Regions from separate parts of the Homo sapiens genome. Here regions 2 and 3 are each linked to region 1. Evidence: fine-mapped expression QTL. A gene starts in region 1. Each other region holds a variant in brackets. All regions are shown on one strand. Distances are from middle to middle.

What was found.
Region 2: its variant is fine-mapped to the expression of FGL2 in whole blood (TOPMed, PIP above 0.99).
Region 3: its variant is fine-mapped to the expression of FGL2 in Th1/17 cells (Schmiedel 2018, PIP 0.95).

What each region holds. Positions count from the first base shown.
Region 1 is chr7:77,195,795-77,204,114 of GRCh38, forward strand. FGL2 (fibrinogen like 2) reads right to left here and starts at 4,025. Exons shown (of 2, transcript NM_006682.3): 1 at 3,387-4,025; 2 at 1-1,191. The coding sequence starts at 3,999. The coding sequence ends at 485. All of the region lies in intron 2 of CCDC146 (coiled-coil domain containing 146), which reads left to right. RefSeq lists a silencer at 3,616-3,725 and an enhancer at 7,115-7,164.
Region 2 is chr7:77,234,289-77,242,608 of GRCh38, forward strand. CCDC146 (coiled-coil domain containing 146) reads left to right here. Exons shown (of 19, transcript NM_020879.3): 3 at 2,659-2,741; 4 at 7,403-7,612. All of the region lies in intron 1 of CCDC146-AS1 (CCDC146 antisense RNA 1), which reads right to left. Among named protein-coding and RNA genes, the nearest start is that of CCDC146-AS1, 10 kb to the right of the region's middle. The variant ACT/A (reference allele first, on the strand shown) is at 4,718.
Region 3 is chr7:76,711,661-76,719,980 of GRCh38, forward strand. No RefSeq gene overlaps it. Among named protein-coding and RNA genes, the nearest start is that of POMZP3, 89 kb to the left of the region's middle. The variant C/CT (reference allele first, on the strand shown) is at 3,620.

The DNA of each region.
Region 1 (8,320 bases):
TACAGGCATGTACCACCATGCCCGGCTAATTTTTGTATTTTTAATAGAGACAGCGTTTCACATGTTTGGCCAGGCTGGTCTCAAACTCCTGACCTCAAGTGATCTGCCTGCCTTGACATTCCAAAGTGCTGGGATTACAGGCGTGAGCTACCACACCCAGCCAACAATTATTTTTTAAATACAGCAAGTAATACAAGCAATAGAAAAAGTTTCAATAGAAATTAAAAGAATTGTAAATCTAATGTATAATTCTCAATATTGCTAATTGCTTGCAAGTGTTCATTGGATAACAGCATAACAACAAAGGACTCCTTTAAAATGCATTGTTTTTCAGCTTTATTTCAAATGCTGTGTAGCATAAGAACCTAGCCGTCAGACATCATTTTTTAGCTATGAAAAATATGAAACAAGGCATATTCTAAAGTGCTGAAGGAATTAATTGCCCTATTAGATAACGAATACCTGGAGGAATGAACAGAGTGATTTATGGCTTAAAGTGCTTGGGTCTGATCATCATCTTAGCCTCTTTGAAGGAGGACTTGTAGCCACCAGGGTGTGCCTCACTTACACCAGGCCAGGTACCCCAGAAAATCCCATTACGGACACCTCTGTATTTTTGGTGATAATATTTGCCATTTAAGTTTGCAGAAAGACATGCATCAAACCACCAGCCTGAACTGTAGTACAGCCCACAGTTCCCAGAAGGATATCGATCATTGTCTTTATCTGGAGTGGTGAAAAACTTCAGATCGTGGTTGTAATGTTTGTTGAAACGTAATGCATCTCCAGCTGTGCCATTATAGTTACCAACGTGTAAACGATATTTGAGAAACTCATTAGCCACATAAAACTGATCATACAAGGCATATAGTTCGACACCATTAAAGTCTTCAAGATCTATTCTCAGAATCATTTCCTTACTCTTGGTCAGAAGATGAATTTTATCGTTCCCCAGCCAAAATTCCCTTCTGAGGTTTCCAAAGCCTGCTTTGTAGTCTTGCCATGTTCTGGTGAAGTTGGTGCTCCCATCGAGACGTGCCTGCAGCACTGTCCAGCCTCCCCCCATGGTCTCCATGTCACAGTAAACTTCAAAGCTACTATTTTTGGGATCAGGTGTAACTCTGTAGGTCTCACTGCTTCTTTTGCCTATTGCGTAGTAGTCAGAGCAATCTTTATATATTAGATGTTGAACTGAAGGGGAAATAAAAGGAAGGCATTGGATCTTGTTAATAGAAACCATGCATCTGAAGAATTCTTTATATGTACAAAAGCAGTTTGATAATTGAATCAATGGCAGTAATGAAACTTTACTAAACTTACTTGAACCTGTTTAGCAAATGCTTAAGGCCTCACAAGAAGAACCTAATGTTATAAAGCAGAAAGGACCTCTAATATACTCTTGGTTGGTAGTAATAATGACAGCATCAACAGCAAACGACAATAAGAAAATAATAAAAGTACAGTTTTAATAATTTAGTATTATGTAGTGAGGCCTACCTATACGTTCTAGGCATGCTGCCAGACTGGGTAACATTTTCACACTGAATCTGAACATTGACCTTATGATGTAGGCGTTACTGCCAGTCTGCATGTGAGGATATTTAGGCATAAAGATCAGTGGCTTGCCCACCTTCACCTGAGCTTTAAGTGGCAGAGCCAGGACACTAACTCAGATCTGGCTGGCAGCAAAGCTTTGTTCTCGTAATCATTGCATCCCTTGGTCCTAAAAATCAGATGATTCTAACTCTCCTAGAACTGTATTCCTTGCATACAGAGGAAGCACAGGCTTCTATTTTCTTTCACCTAAAGGGGCTGATAGCCTCTACTGTCAGAAGGTTTTATAGCATATATTCCAAATGATGTGTTAAAATCCTAATGCATAGGATTGATCATAAATTCATATTCATTTCACTTGACAACTATATAAAGAAGCTCAAGTGAAAAAGAAGTATCTTTTTCAATGACACACCAATATTCTTATTCTGTATTTATTATCTAGGAAAGTATTTAGCCACTATTTCACATGTTGGGTTTCTAGAAAGAAACAACAGGTGACTATATTGAGGATAAGCATAATAATCAGTTAACAAAGTTCTGTATGAATCAGACAGATATTTACTCCCAGATAGTTTTTATTAAAATGTGTGACAAATAAGGTAAGTTTAATATGAGATACCCTAAGGCATAAAAATCTATTCCTGTATATTTAGAGCTCAGAATATTCAGTTATTTCACCCAAAATGTTTAGGAGAAAAATAGACAATAGTCTTCATATCATGACAAGTTGCCATGCAGCATCTAATCTAATGTATACCCACTGATGTCACCTAAGCGGTGAACCTTGGATTCGCAGTGTGCCAGGTACATTCAGATGCAGGCTGCCAGGAGTATTACCAATAGAGGTCCTTGAAAATATGACCCTTCCCTCCTTCACTGGCAGATGCCCTGGGGATGGAGCATGCCTGAGATACTGTCTCTAAATGAAAGTGATCTCCGCCCTGTCCTTTCAACCTCACGTTCATGGTAAGTAGAGGTCCAAATGCGGAGATGGCTTTCCAAAGTATGAGACAGTCAGCAACAGTGGTCCCAGTGACTCAGGTGAAAAGCCAAGGTTTGGAGAGTCAATACCACTGTTAGTTCGTGGGTGGAGTAGGCGATTAAGTCTGTGGAATTTCACATGTATTTATTAAAGTTAATTCAAGTAATTTGGATGGTGAGGATGGGTTCTACTTCTATCTGCTTGAATTCTAACTTCAGGTAAAAGAGAAAGAAATATGAATACCTTCCCTTAGTGGCATGCTAAAACTCTCCCCTTAAAATATTTTTTGTGCCACTAGGTCTCAAAGCAAAAATTTGTGCACACATATGAAACTGCTTTTATTCCATCTGTAAACTCTCCCATTTTCTCCAGATATTTGGGATTAAGAACTAGATTACTTGCTAAAATCTTTCAAAGACCTCTTTAGCCATGAGAAGCGGCAGTCAGTCAATCACAAGAAAAACTGATTTCCAACAAACAAGGCACAATTGTGAACATCGCCTTATCTTTATTGTTTTCAAACACCTCATTGAAGAGACAAGTTAAATGCACTAAAACATCAAGAAATTCTCTCTACTTCTGCTTGCAAGTAGGTCTGGCATTAACAAATAAGATCTTAAAATTGAAAGTGACTTCCAGTGGATACAGAACTAACTATGATTTTTGTAATTAGGTCATATTTATGTGGTCATATTTGAGAAGATATTTATTTTTTCCTGTGCACCTTGATAAATAAAAGACTTAATCTGTCATCTATTTAACTTACTGACTCAGGTTAATGTTTATAGATACTCTCTAGCTGTATAACATTTATGAACATATGATAAGAAAACATTATTATACATACCTGGACGTGACTGTATTTGTTCTTGGCTGGGACACTTTGAACATTTGCCATCCAAACTATTGACAACAAATGTTAGATTTGCCACTTTGCTGTCAACATAATTTTCTATGTTGTTCATATTTACAAGATTCAGCTTCTCCAGGCGACCATGAAGTACATTGATCTCCTCTTTGGCATTCTTTAGCTCAGAGGACAGCTTGTTAACCTCACTCTCTAATTCTCTAACTCTGTTATCACCAACCTCTCCCGGGGCTCCTGTACTGGGTAACAACAGTCCGTTTCTGCCTGGGTCTCCGTTGTCATCAGCCTGCAGCTTGCAGTCTTGGCAAGATTTCTTTAGACTATTTACGATTTCCTTGAGGTTTTGGACTTCTTTGAACACCTCCTCGATCCTGCTGAATTGCTTCGGGAGCTGAATAGTCAAGGGGGGCAGGCTTACCTGGTAGGGGCACTCCCCTGCCTCTTCGCATTTCCCTCTGCTTTCTAGTCTCACTGGGCAGACATCCTTTGCTCTTTCATCTTTAATTTCCTCTGTTTCATTGTTTGCCACAACCAAAAAACCGTAAGTGGCAAGAACAGCTGAGCTCAGCCAGTACCAGTTAGCCAGCTTCATCTTTACAGTGCTGCTCACCCCAGCAGGGAGTGCGCAGGGCTGGAGCTGCTTTAATAGCGGCAGCTGCCTGAGTCAGGCTTTCTGTGTTCCCAGGAAAGGGTGGGAGCGTTTGCATCACAAGTTTTAGAAACGCACAGGAAGAGGAGATAGCCCTCATCAAACGCAGTTTGCCAAAAACTGTAACTTACTCTCAATAGAAATAATATGCATTGAAATTATTATAGTCAAATGTACACAGCCAACAAGATTCACTTTCATAATGTATTTTATGAAGTATAAGAAAAGTCTTGCATTTCTAAAGTAATTTGGTATACTTACGCTTGAAGTAAATAATTATACGTAACTTCACTGGAAAAACAGTTTTTAAAGATAAAAAGTAAGAGCTAGTTATCCAAACTGTCTATAGAACAGAAACGTTACTAAAATGAAAATGGTCCTTTTTCCTTCTTAGAATGGGGCATTGGGGAGCCTGTATTTTCTTCATGTTGGACTTTCAGGTGAAATCTTAAGCACTTTTAGAAGTTTCTAAGTGTAACAAAGTACAGCTTTCTGACTATTGCAGTTGACTTTTGCTTCATCTACTTGAAAAAGAGAAGAAAACTAGTGGAGAAAAAAGTGCTACTTTCTATTCCTTTGTCCGTAGCATAGTGTATATTAATGTCTAAATGTCTAAGACCCATTTAAAAGGACATAATTGTCTTTCATCAAAACCAGTAGCTGCCTCCTTTGCCCTTCGACATTTTGGTAATTGTACTGTCATCTTCCACAGCTGCTCAAATGTGAATCTTTGAGCTATGCCAGTGTCTGTCCTGAACTTCTCTTGCCTACAGCATCTTTGCCCTTTCTTTCTGCAGGTAGCCCTGGCAGGCGGGCCTCTTGCTTTCTGTCTCCACGCTGGTTCTTCTACCTGCTCTCTGGGCCACTTGGTATATCAGCTTGTTCAAAACATGTAGCATTAATGATAATAGTTTTCTAACTTTCTCTTCAGAGGCTGAAGGCAGGAAAGAGGAACAGCTTCAGTTAGAGAAACCACCTCCTTTTAATTTGTTTTGCATATTGACATCTCATAAGATTTCTTGTTTAAAAAGGGTTTTTTTGCTTTAAAAATAATTTCAAAATGACTGACATGGGCAAAAATCTAAATGTTTTATTGTATTACTTAAAACACTCTGTAGCCTATCTCATATTTATGTCTTTAACCTGATTTCCTATGACTTTTCTGTATATCCCCTTAATTTTAGCCAAATCCTATTCACATTCTCAAAATGTTGGCAGACTCTTTACTCTTCCATGACTGTATTTATTCTCGCATACTCAGGAGACCTGGCTTCCAACCCTAGATCTACCTCTGATCATGTAAACAGATCATCAGCTTTAATGAGCCTTTGTTCCTGTAGCTGTAGCGGAGGAATTTAGCTATTTCTTCCCTCATACAGGAATGATAGTCATGCAAACTTGGAGCACTTGGCTGGGCGTGGTGGCTCACGCCTGTAATCCCAACACATTGGGAGGCCGAGGCATGTGGATCACCTGAGATCAGGAGTTTGAGACCAACCTGGCCAACATGGTGAAACCCCATCTCTACTAAAAATACAAAAAAAAAAAAAAAAATTAGCCAGGTATGGTGGCGTGTGCCTGTAATCCCAGCTACTCGGGAGGCTGAGGCAGGAGAATCACTTGAACCCAGGAGGTGGAGGTTGCAGTGAGCCTAGATCGTACCACTGCACTCCAGCCTGGGCAATAAGAGTGAAACTCCATCCCCCAGCCCCACCCCTCACAAAAAAAGAAAAAAAAAACTTAGAGCACTTAAGAAAAAAAAAAATGCAGTGTATAAATGTAACATTCTTCCCAAATAAATTTGTCAAACATGTTCTACACACCTTATGACTTTTTTTCTTCCATCTTCATATAGCTCTTTCAAAAATTGTTTTTCTCTTCATTCCATTCAATATATCCAATTTTAGACAAAAACTTTTTAGCTAAAAATATCTATTTAATCCCCTAACTCCTAACCTCATTTCTTCTCACCTATTTTCAAGCTGTGACACTTCCCTGTTGGGAGGTAAGAAATAAATGAAACAATAGATAATTTTAAAAAGGAGACATGATGACAACATAGATAAAAAAAAAAACCATTTTGTAAAGTAGAAATATATAGGAATGATATTTAGTTCCTAGTCCTTAAGGATATTGTGAAATGTCCTTGACTGACTAGAGTATAAATCCCTGCATTTAGTTAGTAAAGTATTTATTAAGGATCTTCTGTATACTCAGCACTATGCTAGAGCATATATAAGATGCGTGCCACAGGCACTTTCATTCATTTATTCCTCATACATATATTGATATACTATATATTTATTCATCATAAATTGACTCTGCACCCTCTGCATGCAAAACCGCTATTCTAGGCACTTGGGCCACACTGGTGAACAAATCAGACAAAAATCCCTTTTTCCTTCTTAGAAAGGGGCATTAAAGACCTGGTATTTTCTTCACGTTGGACTTTGAAATGAAATCTTAAGTACTTTTTAAAGTTTCTAAACCTAACAGAAGTACAGCTTTTGGACTCTTGCAGTGGGCTTTTGGTTCATCTGTTTGAATCAGAAATGTGCGTGTCAAGCACTGCTGCTAATTTTTGGCTGGTCACACCCCAGTTAACCAAGGGCCAATGGCACAGTTTCCCCTAAAAAGCTTGGATGTGCTTTGAGAACTGGCTTCTGTCCCTTCAGAATGCATAAAAAATTCCCTGACATAAGGGTAGAGAACTCCTCTGTTGACCAGTTTCATTGACACTGACAGGTGACCTGCTAGGTTCTCGGTTTAGAAAGTCATTTGGCCACTGACTGGAAGGCAGATGCTAAGTGACTACTGCATGAAAAGAGGCTCAACTCCCCTAATGAGTGTATAACTCATGGAGGGCAGAGAGTGTTGTACCGCCTCTACGGTTCCTCCCTGCACTTGCAGATGAGCAAAGAAAGGGCTCAAAGCAATAAATGACTTGTCTGGTCATTTTACAGTTTTCAGTTTCTGTTTTAGAGTTTTTAAGAGACAGCTGGAATTTGAACCTGTATCTGATTCAAAGTTCATATCTTTTCTCTTTGCCACATTGCCACGTAGGAGGAAAGATAACATGGGGAGGGTATGTGAGAACTATGTGGAGAGCCTGTGCTTAAAGCAATGCTTAGATCAATGGAGAGCCACTAAAGGTTTTTGAGCAAGGAAAATAAAATACTTGCCCCCCCCCCCCCCAGGACTATTTTAGGAATGAATCTTCTGCTGCAAATCAGTGGGAAATGGCATTTTAGGTGAGAGCTAGTAGTGTGGTAGCAGGCACTAGATAAGAGGTGAACCAGTGTGGAGGCAGGAGGGGTAGGAAAGGAGATGGAGGCATTATTACCAAGGCATGATAGAAGCCATGGGATCTGATAAGTGGTGAGAACTGGAAAGAGAGGGACAACTCTGAAATTTGCCTCTGATTGCAGTTAAATGATAGCATGCTAATGACAGAGGTAGCAGTAGGTTGGGGAGAGTGTAGTAGTATTTCTGTTTTCAGTACACTGGGTTTTAAGCATTGACAAGCCACCAAATGCAAATATCAAGCAAAGAGTGGTGGCACATCTAGGTATGAATATTGACACAGAATAGATGTGGATGTTAATTTGAAATCACGGGAATCAAAAAGATGGTCAAAGAAATAGGATGAGAACCAGGAGAGTACAGGAGCGTCATGAATACCAGGAAAAGGGAGGGTTTCAAGCAGGACTAGGCCATCAGAAAATCGAAACCTGAAGAGCTGACTTGTCCTTCACTACTAGGAGTTCCCACCTCATGACTTGACCTTCTGCCTCTTCTCTCTTGCTGAAAGCCCTTCTGGATTCTCTCATGCTGAGTCTACCCTGACTCCTAGTATCGGCTGCTTATTCCTCATGGCGGTGTCAGAATCTTCCTTACTACCCTGAATCTGTCCTTGACCCAGCACTGACACATTACACTCACTTACAGACTTGTTTTTAGATTTAAGCAAATTATTTAACACCAATACATGGTGGGATTTTAAAGTAGCAAAATTTATTTCTATAAGCCGCATATGAAATTTTACTTTCATTAGTCTATATTCACATGTTCAGACTTCCTTTTTGCTTACACAAAGTATATTTAAGAGAAGATCTGCATTTTCTATAACTGGATCAGATTCCTAAAGTAAATTTTTGTTTCCCCTAATACAGTTTTTTTTTTCAAGGAAACCCTTTGTGTTTCTATTTGTACTAAAAGAAGAAAGTAAATTTAATGATAGTCGTATTTATAGTATTGAGAGCCT
Region 2 (8,320 bases), 38 kb after region 1:
AGTAACTATGGTCTGTATACTTTGGGAAACCAATGAAAATGTTTGAAACATGAAATAAATTATATATTGGCTAAAAAATACTGCAGAACCAAAATAAATATCTGTAAAATGTAACATTAAGTCGACTTACCAACAGCAACTCAACAGTTAAAAAGTTACAAATAGACCGGGCGCAGTGGCTCACGCCTGTAATCCTAACACTTTGGGAGGCCAAGGCGGGTGGGTTGCCTGAGCTCAGGAGTTCAAGACCAGCCTGGGCAACATGGTGAAACCCCATCTCTACTAAAATACAAAAAATTAGCCAGGTGTGGTGGCATGCGCCTGTAGTCCCACCTAATTGGGAGGCTGAGGCAGGAGAATTGCTAGAACCCGGGAGGTAGAGGTTGCAGTGAGCCAAGATAGCGCCACTGTACTCCAGCCTGGGCAACAGAGCGACAATCCATCTCTGGGGAAAAAAAAAGTTATAAATAAATTATATTTAAGGTGGCATATGAATAGATTTTAAGATATTTGATACAGGTAGAGTATCCTCAAAGGTCTTAAAGATCTTGTTCACCATATTTCACCCATAGATTAAAAAAATAATGAGGGTTGTAGGGATTGGAAGCCAGGCCTGGCACCAGATAGTATGGCCCTCATGAAAGATCCCCAACACTTTCACAAAGAAGAAATGGTTTCATAATGCATTTAACATTTTTCTACCCTGATGCGGGTAGAAAGACCACGAAACCCCACTGTATAGACTCAGACTTTTGCATTTTGATAGCTGCATTCATTCATTTGCTAACAAATATAAGCAATTTACCTAGCACCTGGGTATACTGTGCCTGGGATTATACTGTGCCTGGGATTCTAGTAATACTTTGGCTGAGGATACAGTGAAGGACAAGGTAATCTGGGCCCTTTCCTCATAGGTCTTATATACTAGCTGGGGAAGTATAAAAATGTTTTTAATAATGTAAGTAAATTTATTCTTGCAGATTGTAATGTTATGAAGCTCAGCGTTCTTTAGAGGTAGGAGCAAGTACACGTGGTTATCTTCTTTAGATTTGGAAGTCAGAAAAGGCCTTCTTATGAATTCATATTTAAGCTGAGACATGAAGAAAGACTTGGAGTGAAGTAGGGGGAGTAAGGAATGACTAATCAGAGGCCCTGGAGAAAAAGAGAGACTCATACATCTGTGGAAATCAAAGGCAGCCAGTGTGGCAGAAGCAATGAAGCACTGGGAGCTTAAAGAGTGTGTTGTGAAAGGAGGCTGTGGGGGTGTTGGGGTCAGGCAGGACCTCAAGGTCTTGAATACCAAGGGTCTTGAATTTTATTCCACTTGAAGTGTTTTGATCACCCAGCATAACATAACCTTGTCTGATTTTTAAAAAGATCTCCCTGGCAGAAGGGCAGTTAGGAGGTTTAGTAGTGGTCCAATTGAGAGATGATGAGACTTGGGCCAGTGGGATCAGGGAAGGAAGAGGAAAGTGGATGAATTCAATAAGCACTTTAGAGGTAAGGGCCAGGCTTTCACGCCTGTAATTTCAGCACTTTGCGAGGCCAAGGTGGGTGGATCACCTGAGGTCAGGAGTTCAAGACCAGCCTGGCTAACATGGTGAACCCCCATCCCTACTAAAAATACAAAAAATTAGCTGGGCGTGGTGGTGTGCCCCTGTGGTCCCAGCTACTTGGGAGGCTGAGGTACGAGAATCACTTAAACCCGGGAGGCAGAGGTTGCAGTGAGCCGAGATTGCACCACTGCATTCCAGCCTGGACGACAGAGTGAGACTCCGTCATAAATAAATAAATAAATAAATAAATGTAAGAACAACAGGGCTGAAAAACACAAATATTCTCTTTAGTTCTATTTTGATACTGTCACTAGCAGTTGAAGTCAAACCTAATACAAATGCTCATTGCATTATGATTTTAGGATGGTAAAACTTTAGTGTTTGACGATGTTTTATGATGTCTGTTAACTAATTATCACCTAACTCAGAAAACAGATCAAAAGTCATTTTAACTAGAAATAAAATGGGAATAAATAGTACCTCTTTATGCATTGGAAAACTTTCCATGCTTCTTTGACAGCAGAGGCAAAGGCATCACGGTACAGGGGAGTGATCGTGGGTTTTTGGAGCTGAACCACTTGGGTTTAAATTCTCACCCTGCCTTTAACTAGCTCTATAACCTTGAACAAATCATTTTTCTAAACTTTAGTTTCAAATGGAGATGATAATCTTTATTTCACAACATTTTTAAGAATGAAATAACTGATGGGCAACACATACTCTAATAGCTGTTCAATAACCATTCATTTTCTCAACTTACAAATAGCCAACCTATAATCTACACTATTCAGATTGTTTGTTAAACCTTGAAATTTTTTTTAGAGTTAGAAGAATTTAACTCAATCCTCTCAATTTCCAGACAAAGAAATAACAGCCTAGGGAGTTGAAAAGACTTGCCTGAGGACACAGAATGTACTGGGGGCAGAATAGAACTAGCACTATTTTCTCCAAACACCTGGCATGTTTCCAGTACACTACATTGCCTCGTGTATCCTCTAATGTTTAATGGAGGATTTTATAAGATAACCATATATCCATTCCATCCCCTGCTTAAGCCTAAAGAGAATGGTGATTAACAGTGACCTTATGTTCTCTTTGCTAGTTACATGCTATGGGAAAACTTCCTGGAACCAGAATGGCAGCGTTAAAAGCCAAGTATACCTTGCTGCATGACGCCGTGATGAGGTATGCAATTTACCAATATGGAGACATGATTAATCACCTTTAAATTTCTTACTGGTGATGAGACCTGTCTTCATTTGCATTCCCCCATAAGCAGACCCTGAGGCAAGGATTTGCGTTCAGGGAGTTTGAGAAGTGGTACGAGAAAGCATCGTGAGAGAGTGGGGAAGTGCGACTGGGAAGGAAGGAATCTAGCCTTGATCAGGCCGTGTACATCTGCGAGTTTATATGATGGGCTACTGGGGCTCAGCCTCACAGAGGAGCCTCTGAGTGGCTCACCTCAGCACTCTCCCACTGAAGAGTGAGGAAACTGGAATATTTGCCCACCAGTTTCCACCACTCATTTATTACAAATTACTTCCAGGGAGATTAGCTCTTGGCACTTCCAGCTTGCGCTTTGACAAACCAAGCAAACTTTGATGGCCAGAGACAGCTCTCAGGCGGAGGGACACAGGTGCTGCTGATACATATGGTAACTGTCCACTAAAGCTGCAGGTGGGCAAAAGGATTCTGGTGGGACACTGACAGTCTCTGCATAGGACACACCTGCAGGACTCTTCTCCCGTGTCTGTTCATCACTCAGAGGTGTAGATTCTCCAACAACCCCAGCTTGAGTCTGCTGAGACCCTGTCTGTACTTCTCACCTCCTCCCCATATCACAAGCTACTTACACCTTGCAAGTCCCAATCACCAACAGGTCAGAAGAACAGGCTATCATAGAAGAGTCCAGCAAGCCTGCCTGAGCACTGGCTATTAGCCACTGGGAATTAAGAGGGCAGGGGAGTGAAGAAAGAGGGAAAACCCTAATGTGCTGTGATTCTTTACCACTCCCAAGCCTCTTTCTTTCCTTCCCCCACCTCTTGTCTCAGGGCCTTGCATTGTATCTTCATCAAAAGCCAAGGAGCAACAGCAACAGATAGAAACTCCATGCTGCCACTCCCCAGCCATCCTCTCCCCGCAATTCCCAATCACTTCCCCTCCTTCTTATCTTGCCCAGAGATATTTGGCTACTTTGAGGGTAAAAGCATGAGGGAAGAGTGAACAACTTGGAAAAGAGCAGAGCTGCATTCCTATGCAAACTTCAAGTGCACCCAGGTTCCTCACACCCCTCCAAAGCCCCCAGCCTTGGTTCCTCATCCTCAAGCCCAAGCCAAGTCCTCACCCCCACACCTAATGGAGGTTCCATTCCCCCGTAGCTGGTCACGCCTGCCAGTGTGTTCTCAGAGTTCTCAAGGCTCAGGAATTTTGAGACTTTAAGTGGAAAGTCTGGAGTAATCTTTTACAACATACTTCACACTGCTTAACTGAGAGGAAATGCCATGCAGTTCTCTGGGCATCCCTCCAATCCTCTTTGCAGATACAAGGAATATCAGTGTTTCCTGCCCTCTGGATAGCTCTTCTTTTTTTTTAGACAGAGTCTCCCTCTGTCACCCAGGCTGGAGTGCAGTGGCCTGGTCTTGGCTCACTGCAAGCTCCGCCTCCCAGGTTCACGCCATTCTCCTGCCTCAGACTCTTGAGTAGCTAGGACTACAGGAGCCCGCCACCACACCCAGCTAATTTTTTTGTATTTTTAGTAGAGATGGGGTTTCACTGGGTTAGCCAGGATGGTCTCAATCTCCTGACCTTGTGATCCTCACGCCTCGGCCTCCCAAAGTGCTGGGATTACAGGCGTGAGCCACCGTGCCCAGCCTGGATAGCTCTTATCTAGAGCCCAGTGGAGATTTGCAGGGTGCTTTGACTTAACTTCCTCCTCCCCTGGCCCACAACTCAGTTCCCTGGCCCCTAATGACAAGTAGCAATGCAGGACCTCAGCTATGGCACTATTTCTTCCTCTTCCAGGTTGTGTTGCAAAACAGTTAACTTCCCTTCTGCTACCCACATTTTACATCTTGACCACTTAGTTCCCTCTAATGCCATTGCAAATACTCACCATTCTCTCCTACTCCCAATGCCTGATGGGTGGGAAAAACATGAAGTAG[ACT/A]CTTCATTCGTGCTGCTAGGACTACAGCTGGGCAGATATAGCCTGGAAATATTGAACTGAAACTGAATGAGTCTTCCATAGAAACCATGTTATAAGAGTTGTTAAAGTCTCTTCTACTGGTATCATGTTTTAAATACATGTGGGTAAGTTGCGATTTGTGTTCTGGCTGGAACCCTACCACCCTGTCCTTTCTATGCAAAAACAGGCACTGTAGCCTGGTCCAACAGCTTACAATTTCAATAGCTGAAGCCTGACCTATTAAGGAGACCAGATAACTTTAGATTTACAAAGTTTATTAGCATACATGAAAATTGAATTATAGGAGAATAATTCCAGCTTTCATTAATGAAAATTATTTGAGGTATCACTGTAGCTATTGTTGTTGCTATTTGGTACCTAACATCATGCCTGGAACGTGTTATGTCCCAGTAAATGTTTTGCTAGATGCTATTGAGCAAATGACATTATAAAACCTGGGAAAATGGATGTATCTGTACTGAATTGAGAATATCACAAAGGTGAGGCAGACACAAGGTAACTTCAGTTGAGATTGGCTTGATCAAGTCATTGGGCGTCTCTGCAAATGAGCTGGAACTTGAAGATTTATCTTGGTGAGGACAGTTGGTGGGGAGCATACATCAAAAGAGAGCTCTGGCTCTAAAACAGGAAGTGGTGAGGGCTTACTTCAAATAGGAGAGGTAGCTAATATAAGGGTTTCTGGGAAAGAGGAATCATATCTACTGGTAAGGTTGGAGCCGATGCTTGCTGATGCTAGCTTGCAGCATAGAGGAGTTCTATAAGATACTGGAGATTCCGCCATGTCCTTTTTCTACATCCTCTGACAGATGTTTAGTCCTTTTCCCTACATAGGGCCAAGGTCATAGAATATAACTGGGGTTGTAGGAATCTCCCTCTACCGTGACCTTCAAGTCCATCCAGCTCTAACCAGTGTCCAATTTAGAATCAGAAATCTGTAAATTTATTTATATTCATAATTGCGTATGGGAATTTCTCTTCCTAGTTTCCTAATAAAGTGCCATTAGAAAAGTTTCTGTTTTTTCATAGTTCACTAAGTGGGGAGAGATTTTCCTACAATTATGTTACAAGAATTCAAGAGAGCTAGGGTTGTTTGGGGAGTTCAAGGGAAAACCTCCTCTTTCCGTATCATTTATCCCCTTCTAGTAAGTCATAATCATTCTTCAAAGTCAAGTTCAAATGTCACATTCCCATTGAGTGATCCTTTCTCTGTTGTCTCCTGCTGTCTTGATCTGGACACCAGCGGTAGTACTTGTCATCTGGTATTCCTCCGCATCTGCCAGATTGTAAGATTCTTGAAGCTAGGAGCTAAGCCTTATTCACCTCTTGCACCTAGCATAGTACAGTCATCTCTTGGTATCCTTGGGGGATTGATTCCAGGACCTCCTGCAGATACCAAAATCCATGGATACTCCAGTCCCTGATATAAAATGGTATAGTATTTGCATGTAACTTAATCACATCCTCCTGTATACTTTAAATCATTTCTAGATTACTTGTGATACCTAATACAATATAAATGCTATGTAAATGGTTGTTATGCTGTATTGTTTAGGCAATCATGACAAGAAAAGTCTGTACATGTTCAGTAAATAAACAATTTTTAAGTAAACATTTTATTTTGGAATAATTTTAGATTCATAGAAAAGTTGCAAAAATAATATACGAAGTTCCCGTCTATCCTTCACCCATTTTCCTCTAATGGGAGCATCTTACATAACCATGGTCCATCAAAACTAGGAAGTTAACATTCGTATATTACTATTAATTAAACTTCAGATTTTCAACAGTTTTTCCACTAATGCTCTTTTTTTTGTTCCAGGACCCAATGCAGTATACCCCACTATATTTAGCCCTCATCTCTCCTTGATCTCTGTGACAATTTCTCAGTCTTTCCTTGTTTTTTTTAAATCACGTTGACATTTTTTGTTTTTTTTTGTTTGTTTGTTTGTTTGTTTTTTTGGGTTTTTTTTTTTTGAGATGGAGTCTCACTCTGTCGCCCAGGCGGGAGTGCAGTGGCTCAATCTCGGCTGAGATGGAGTCTCACTCTGTCGCCCAGGCGGGAGTGCAGTGGCTCAATCTCGGCTCACTGCAAGCTCCGCCTCCTGGGTTCACGCCATTCTCCTGCCTCAGCCTCCCGAGTAGCTGGGACTACAGGCGCCCGCCACCATGCCCAGCTAATTTTTTGTATTTTTAGTAGAGACGGGGTTTCACTGTGTTAGCCAGAACGGTTTCGATCTCCTGACCTTGTGATCCGCCTGCCTCGGCCTCCCAAAGTGCTGGGATTACAGGCATGAGCCATCGCGCCCGGCCACGTTGACAGTTTTAAGAGTGCCAGTCAGGTATTCTATAGAGCATTTCTCAGTTTGGAATTTTTCTCATATTTAGGCCAGAGTTAGGTGTTTTGGAGGAGAATACCACAAAGGTGAAGCAGACTCAATTTTTTAACAAAAATTTTCCCTCGTGGTTGGTTGAATCCACAGATGTGGACTCACGGACATGAAGGGTCAACTGACTTGGCACAAAAATGTCCCAGAGTTGAGTTGATCTGAGGAGTGGGGAGCAGCTATCCTCACTAGACCCCCACAGGAGCCACCGAGGATGTACATGTCTCATTATGTGAGTCTCTGTTTTTCATGTAACCCAGCACACAAGAGTCAGAGGTCCAACTGCTACAGAATGCCAAACGTTTCACTGAGCAAATACAACAGCAGCAGTTTCACCTGCAGCAAGCTGATAATTTTCCAGAAGCATTCTCCACGGAGGTCTCCAAAATGAGAGAACAACTTCTCAAGTATCAAAATGAATATAATGCAGTGAAGGAAAGAGAGTTCCATAATCAGTACAGATTAAATAGGTAAGTGCACAGTTCTCTCCGGCACACTGAAAAGTCTTTTCCTCATAAATAGAAAAAAATCAGATTAAGTTGGAGGTAATTGAAGGAGTAGGAGATAGCAGTACGATGATGATTGCAAACCTAGTTCTCTTGATTCCTTAGAATGGAATGGGAATTCCCTGAACAAGAAAGTTACACTTCTCGAATAAAAGCTCAGGTGACAGAGATGCCTGCTGTGTTTTTCATGTCAGGAAAGCCATCTCATTGAGAGCTGCAGTCAGAGAACACACTCCACCAAACCAGTTATTAGCATTCCCTTGCCCTTCCCCTGCCCTGGCAGTGGCCCCCTCATCCCATGACTATAGCAGTACCAGAGCACGCATCTGCATGGTGAGCACTTCTCCCCACATGCATTTTCCAAACAAGCCTCCATGAGCTGAGGGTCACATGTCATCTGGCTCACTCTATTCTTCTAAGAGAGCAGCAACAGGACCACATATGCAAACTTCATCTCCTACTACTAGATTGTTCCTCAGGATCAAGGAGAAAAGGTATATCCTTTTGGAAGACACATTTACTTATCCAAATTTAGAGGACGTCATTTAGTGAACTAAAGCAGACATTAAGTGCTAAAAGGGGAAATGTTATCTTCAAAATCTCTTCTAACATTCCCCCCATGGAGTAGCAAGTCACTGGAGGAGTTTGTTCAGCAAGTCATACTATTTAGAT
Region 3 (8,320 bases), 480 kb before region 1:
ATTATATATTATTACTAAGGGAAGGGAATATATATTATATATTGCTAAGGGACGGGAATACATATTATATATTGCTAAGCCTCTGAGGCTCCTACCACTCTTGATTCCCATAGCAACATAGTTGTTGGATCAGTCAAAACCCCACAGAGACATGCAAAAGTTCACATCTTTTATGCTGGACCTCCTCAGGATACTCTAATTTGCTACAGCTGTGCCCATGCCCATTCACTCCTAGGTTCTTGGCAAGCCCAGCCTTGATGGTTGACAGGTGTGGGAGCTACTGGCTCAGGGGAAAGAAAATTAACCCTATTTCTGCCAGAACCCACCCTACAATAGTTAACACATAGTTTCTTTTATAATCAAATTTCTAACAATACCGCCCTCAACAGAGAAACAAGAGGCTGATTCATTATTCTTACACTCGAATAAGGAGAATCTTCATTTCTCACCATGATCAACCAGTATAAATTTTTTAATCAGTCAGAAAGCTTTCTAGTCCTAAAAGCACTGGGACCCATGATTATCACTAAGGATATTACTTAGAGGTGGAAAGATGAAGATATGAACAGCTGGTTTAGTAGTCACAGCAGAAGACCTTGAAATATCCCTAGAAGAGAAGATTTTAGGTTGTTTGGCTTATTTGGAGAAGAAGAGAAAGCCACTGCTCTGTTCCTCCTTTGCATTTTTCCCTCTTCAGAAAAGCAGGCTCTTATAAATTTTTTAAAATAATTGAGCCATTTTGAAATGGTATATTTTTGACCATTTTAATTATTTGATTTGTTTTCGTTTCTGCCTTGTGCACAGTCAGAGGTAAACTAAAATGGCTTGTGCTGGTAGTGGGCCATCGTAAAAAGCTCAGATGACAGTGGGAAATTGCTTTTGTGATGAAGGGAAACATTAATAAAAGCTTCTCTCATGTTTACCCTTTTAAATTGGCCCTAGAGGAGTTATTTAAAGTACCCCATTGGCAGTGGTTGGCTGATACCTTAGGTGTGAAATGTTCTCTGTCCATAGGTGGTAGTTGAGTTTGGAAATATCTACCTTTTTCTGACCTCGTTTGGTTTATCATTGAAGTTTCATTTAAACTCTTTTGTCCTCTTGTGATATGGTAAAGGCCTTAAGTCTTTGCTCATAAAGAAAATATTGTTGTGTGTCTAAGAAAATGTCACATTTTGTGTCCCACAAGGGTCTTAAGATACTAAATCATTCTACCTGTGGCATCAGGGCTTCAATAGATGCAACTGGCTAGGGATTTTATTTTATTTTTTAATTTACAAGAAAGGTAACCAAAGCAAAATCAAAGTAGGTTTTTTTGTTTTTAATGTGAATTTCCTACGCTGCCCTATATTCAACTACACATATGAGATACCCAAGAAAGTGCACTAAATAACTTTTATAGCTCATTTGGGAGTCCTTCCGTTGAGTCAGAGAGTAAGAAAAGATTCATGTGGTTCAGCTGTCCAAGGGTACTGAGCGTGAGAAACCAGCACAAAGTGAAGGCTCCCTTAGGATGGCCTCTCTTATTCCCACTGCTGTGCCATTCCACAATGCTTGTCTTCTCACCCTCAGCAGTATGACAGGTGCTACACTCAGAGCATCTGCAAAGACAGTTAGTAGAAGATGAGATCTTTTATAGAAACTCAAATGTCCTCTCTGGAGGATTCAGTTGATAAGGGTACATAGTTGGTATTCTATTTAACTTTACTTTGGTTTTGAATCTTGAAATTTTCTGCAGTGAAAGGGGAGGGGAACTTTTATCTATTCAGTAGCCTCTGAGGGCCAAGGACTTACATTAATTTTTTTGATCACTTGGTTTTTCACAACAAATTCATAAAGTATAGGTGTTTATCTGCATCTAATTTTGTAGATAAGGAAATTCCAACCATAAAAGGTTAAATTTTCTCTCACCAGGCAAATGTGTGAGAACCCAAATGTTTATTCTGATCCAAGACCATCTCTGTTTTCTGTATCAAGCTTTCTCCTCTGGAGATAAAAATAGGAAAAATGTAATAATTTTTTAAGCAACATGTCATATGATGAGTCTTGAATATTTTCTAATTGAACTTTTCTTCTTGGAACATAGAAGGAAATGACCTATAGAGAAAAAGGGACTAGCACCAAATCACACAGTTCTTTTTGTCTCTTTTATGAGTTTAAATAATATACTCTTCTCTAATCAAGTTTTTTGTATAATTTTTATAAAATTTACTTAGAATAACAGTTAGATGAGCTTTGACAACACTAGTGTAATCAGCATCACAATCAAGTTCATAGAACATTTCCATCACCCAGAAACTTCCCTTGTATTTATTTGCTGTCATTCTCCAACCTTTTACTTTAGACATCACGATAAGCTTTATGTCACTATAGATTAATTTTTCTTGATCTAGAATGTCATGTAAATAAAATCATGTAGTGCACAGCTTCCTTAGCTTGCCATAATGCTTCTTATATTTGTTCATGTGGTTGGGGTAACTTAGTGGTCTTTTTTTTTTAACTGTTAGTAATATTTCATCATACGCATATACTACATCTTGTTTCTCCACCCACTTGCTCGCTCGTTGATGGACATTAGTATGGTCTACAGGGTTTTTTTGCCTATTGAAAACAAAGCTTCTGTAAACATTTCAGTGCAAGGAATTTCATGTCTCTTAGGTAAATAATTAGTAGTAGAGTTGATTTGGTGTATTGTCAAAAAATGGACAAACTGATCTCCCCAGTGGCTATTCAATTTTATATTCCTACCAGCAACATATGAGACTTACAGTTGCTCCACAACCTTGAAAACACTTGCTATTTTCAATAGTTTTAATTTTAGCCATTCTAGTAGGTATAGAGCAATATCTCATTGTGGTTTTACTTTTATTTCTGTAAGGCCTAGAAAGAGTGAACCTCTTGTTTTGTGTTTGTTAGTCATGAATGTATCTTTTTCGGTAAAATATTTAGTCAACTATTTTGCCCATTAAAAAAAAATCTGGTTGCTAGTTTTCTTACTGAATTGTAAGAATGATTTTTATATTTTGAATATAAGTCCTTTGTCAGATATATGCAATGCAAATATGTCCACCTCATCTTTAGGTTGCCTTTTTATCTTCTTGATGGTAGTCTTCAAAGAAGAGAAGTGCTGTATTAATTTTGATGAAATCAAGCTTATCAGTTCTTTTTATTTACAGTTTTTTGCATCTCATCTAAGTAACATTTACCTAATAAAAGATCGCAATAATTTTGTCCTATGTTTTCTTCTGGAAATTTTAAGCTTTCTAAAGTTTTTGAGTTTATTTCTGTGTATGGCATGAGGTATGGGTTATGGTTCATTTTTTCCACAGGGATAGGAATTTTTTAAAAAGATTATTTTTCCCCATTGAATAAATGCAATATCTTTTTTAAAAAATCTATTTACTATGAAAGTGTCTATTTCTAAACTCTTAATTCTGTTGCATTGATCTACCTGAATCCTTACAACAATGCTACACTGTTTTGATTACTGTAGCTTTTTAAATAAGTATTAAAATAAGGCAATACAACTTCCTTCTGAAAATGGCTTCAGCTATTTTAGGTGTTTGCATTTTCATAAAAATTTTAGAAACAGTTTGTCACTGCTTTTCTTTTCTTTTTTTCC[C/CT]TTTTTTTTTTTTTTTTTTTTGAGACAGCATCTTGCTCTGTCACCCAGGCTGGAGTGCTGTGGTGCAATAGCAGCTCACTTCAGCCTCAACCTCCCAGGCTCAAGCAATCCTTTGACCCCAGCCTCCTGAGCAGCTGGGATCACAGGCCCATGACACCATTCCCAACTAATTTTTTTTTTTCATAGAGAAGGGGTCTCCCTATGTTGCCCCAGGCTGGTCAAATTCCTGGGGTCAAGCAAGTCACCTGCCTCTGCTTCCCAAAACGTTGGGATTGCAGGCATGAACCACTGCACTCAACAGCTTGTCAATTGTTTTAAAAAGCATGACTGAATTTTTACTGGGATTGTATAGCATCTATATACTAATTTACATTTCACTTATATTTAAAGTATCTTTTAATTGTTCCAACAGTGTTTTCAGTTATTCACTGTGTACATCTTGAATATATTCTGTTAAATGTATTCCTAAATATTCCATGTTTTTGTATGCCATTATAAATGGTATATTTTACTTGAAATTGTATTTTCTAATTATGTCTTGCTAGTTTAGAAATACACTTGCTTTTTATATATTGCTCTTTTATCCTAAGATCTTGTTAAACTCATTTATTTTAAACATTTTGGTTATTGTTGATGATGATTCTTTATAATGTCCTATATACACAATCATGTCATCTCTTCACAAGGACAGTTTTATTAATGCCTTCTAATATATGTATCTTTTATTTCATTTTTCTTTTCTTCTTGCACAGGCTAGACCCTCCACTATAACACTGAATAGAATTAGAGAAAACAGCTATCTTGCCGTGTTCTCTATCATAGAAGGAAGCATTCAGAATTCCACTACTAAGTATAATGGTCACTGTAAGTTTTACATACATACCTTTCATTAGGTTGAGAAATTTTTTCTCTAAGCCTAGTATGCTGATATTTTTAAACTTAAATGAGTGCTGTATCAGGGGAACCTGCCCCCAGTATTTCAACCTAGGTTCTTTCTATTTTCCCTAAGTGTAGGTCAGCCTGAGAAATAAAGAGAAACAGTACAAAGAGAGGAATTTTACAGCTAGGCCTCCAGGGATGACATCACATATTGGTAGGTCCGTGATGTCCACCCGAGCCACAAAACCAGCAGGTTTTTATTAAGGACTTGAAAAGGGGAGGGGGTGTACAAACAGGGAGTAGGTCACAAAGATCACATGCTTTAAAGGGCAATAAAGATCACAATGCAAAGGGTAAAGCAAAGATCACAAGGCAAAGGGCAAAATCAGAATTACTGATGAGGGTCTATGTTCAGCTGTGCGCATATTGTCTTGATAAACATCTTAAACAACAGAAAACAGAGTTCGAGAGCAGAGAACCAGTCTGACCTCAAATTTACCAGGGTGAGGTTTCTTCCCCACCCTAATAAGCCTGAGGGTACTGCAGGAGACCAGGGCATATTTCAGTCCTTATCTCAACTGCATAAGACAGACACTCCCAGAGCAGCCATTTATAGACCACCCCCCAGGGATTCCATTCTTTTCCTAGGGTGTTAGTATTATATTCCTTGCTAGGAAAACAATTTAGCAATATCTCTCCTACTTGCATGTCCATTTATAGGCTCTCTGCAAGAAGAAAAATATGGCTCTTTTTGCCCGACTCCGCAGGCAGTCAGACCTTATGGTTGTCTTCCCTTGTTCCCTAAAATCGCTGTTATTCTGTTCGTTTTCAGGGTGCACTGATTTCATATTGTTCAAACACACATGTTTTACAATCAGATTTCTACAATAGTGGTCCCGAGGTGACATACATTCTCAGCTTACGAAGATAACAGGATTAAGAGATTAAAGTAAAGACAGGCATAAGAAATTATAAGAGTATTATTAGGGAAGTGACAAATGTCCATCAAATCTTCACAATTTATATTCAGAGATTGCAGTAAAAACAGGCGTTAAGAAACTATAAAAGTATTAATTTTGGGAACTGATAAATGTCCATGAAATCTTCACAATTTATGTTCCTCAGCCGCAGCTCCAACAGGTCCCTCCGTTCAGGGTCCCTGACTTCCCGTAACAGTGCTGCACTTTTTTCAAAATTTGTTTCTCCATATATTAACATGATAAAGTGGTTTTTCTCTTTTATTCTGTTAATATATTAGATTACACTGATTATTTTTCAAATATTAAGTCAGCTGTTTATTCCTGAGATATACCTCAATTGGTATATATTTGATATTTTGTTAAGGATTTTTAATTCTGTGTTTTTGAGGGGTATTGGTCTGGTTTTCATACAAGCACATGCTTATCTTGTGAAATAAGCAGGGATTCTTCCCCTCTTCTATTTTCTAGAAGACTTTGTATATAATTGATATTGACTGAAATCTCTTAAGCCATATGAGCTTAGACTACTGTTTATAGGAAAAACTTAACTATGGATTCAATGTATCTATATATTAGGACAGGGCTTTGGTTGTTCTTTTTTTTCCTTTATCTCAAATTTTTAAATTTTGTACCTTTGAATGAATTTGTACATCTCATCAAAGTTGGAAATTTTAGTAGGATATATTTGTTCATCATAGCCCCTTATTATCTTTTCAGTGTTTGTAGGATCTGTAGTGAGAGCTACTGCTTTGTTCCTGATACTGGTTATTTCATTGTCTCCTATTCTTGACCAGATCTCTCTTAAAACCAGATTTTGCTTTCACTTATTTTTCTATTACCTGCTTTCCATTTGATCATTTTTCTGCCCTTATAGTCAATATTTCCTTTCTTTAAACTCATTTTGAGTTTAATTTGCTCTCATTTTTCCAGGTTATAAAGCATTTTAAGCAACACATTTTCCTCTAAGGAAACAGCCTTACCTGTATCCTACACATTTTAAAGTTGTGTTCTTATTTTTATTTAGTTCAAATTATTTATGAGAAATTATGTTTTACAGGGATATTGTTTAATTTCCAAATATTTGTTGATTTTCTACATATTTCTACTGATTCCTAACATAATTATTTTGTGTTCAGAGACCATGTTTTATAATATATCAATATTTTTAATTTCTTAACACACTTGAAAAGTTTATGATATAACTTAGAGGATGTATTATGTACACTAAAAATAATATATCTTTTCCTGCTCTTAAGTAGTGCTTTATATAGACCTATCAGTTGCAATAGGTAAAGTTGGTTGATAGTATTTTCAACTTTCTTGTTAAAAAATACAATTTAGAAGTATTTTTCAATACTATCTCAAGTATTTTTGAGTTATCTGTATCTTTACTGATTTTTGTCTACTTATGCTATCACTTATTGAAAAAGAATGTTGAAATCTGCAACTATCAATGTGGATATGTCTATTTCTTCATTCAGGTCTATCAATATTTGTTTCATGTACTTTGAGTTTCTTTTATTAGATGCATACACATTTAGATAAGTTAATAAAGATTTTTATTCTTCCTTGATTATTTAAACCTTTGTTATCATGAAATTTACCTCTTTATCCTTGGCAATTTTCCTTGGAATGTAGTGTACTTTGATGTCAATACAATCATTCCAAAAGTTTTATGCTTAGTGTCTGTATAATATATATTTTTCCATCTGTTATTGTAAATTATCTGTTTCTTTTTACCTAAAGTAAATTTCTTGTATGAGCATACATTTGGGTCTTGCTGTTTTACCTGGTCTGAATAAACTCTGCCTTTTATTTGGAGTGTTTGATCCATTTACACTTAATGTAATGAATAATAATTAGATAGTTAGATAAGTAAGTTTTCTATGTCTTTTTCTTGTTTTTGTTTTGCTCCTTTGCCTTCTTTTAATTCGATATTTTTTATAATTATATTTTGTCTCCCCTAGTGATTTATATGTTAGCTGTGTGTGTATATGTGTGTATTTGCTCTAAGGTTTAAAGCACTCATCTTTAATTTATCAATTCTACCACCAAGCACTGTTATATCACTTCACATTAATCAAACTTATAATAGTTTACTTATTTTTCCCTACTCTTCCTTGTGCTATTGTTATCACAATGGTCTAGTGCCTCCAGTTAGGAAGCTATGGTAATCATAAAGTTCATGCTATGATTCTTTTGCCTCCTATTAATATAAAAAATTCCAGTTCAGCTTGCTTTCAAATGTCTGGAGTTTTTTTTTTTATAATGCTTTTTCTGTGTCTTAGTTATCTGAAGTGGGAGTGCAAGTCAGTCTTGTCAGTTAGCTTTACATGATCAAAAGCAAAATTAACTTTAACATGATATATTCTTTAGAAATAATATCTTCATAAACAAAAAATAAATTGACCTGTCAATAATGCTAGCTCTGAGATAATATTTCAGCTGTATTAAAAGGTTTACATTAAGATTTGCTAACTTTACTCCAACTATGATCAACAAATCATTATAAATATTTTATAACTCATATTTATGTTAGAAACATATGGTCATAGGGGAAAAATTAGAATATATAGATGAAGAAAAAATGAAACTTTCCTCTTATATCATACCTAGACATGCAGATTAATATTTTGCTGTAGAATTTGAATAGGTATAGTTCATATATTCTAAAGAATTCATATTAGAAATTTTGAGAACCATAGGCACAGACTATGACCAAATAAAAACCAAAAACCAAAAACACCTTCTCATATTCCCACCTCCACCTCTGACTCCTTAATTTAGATGGTCATTACTTCCACCTAAATTATAGATACACTTAGCCTCCTACCTAGTTTTT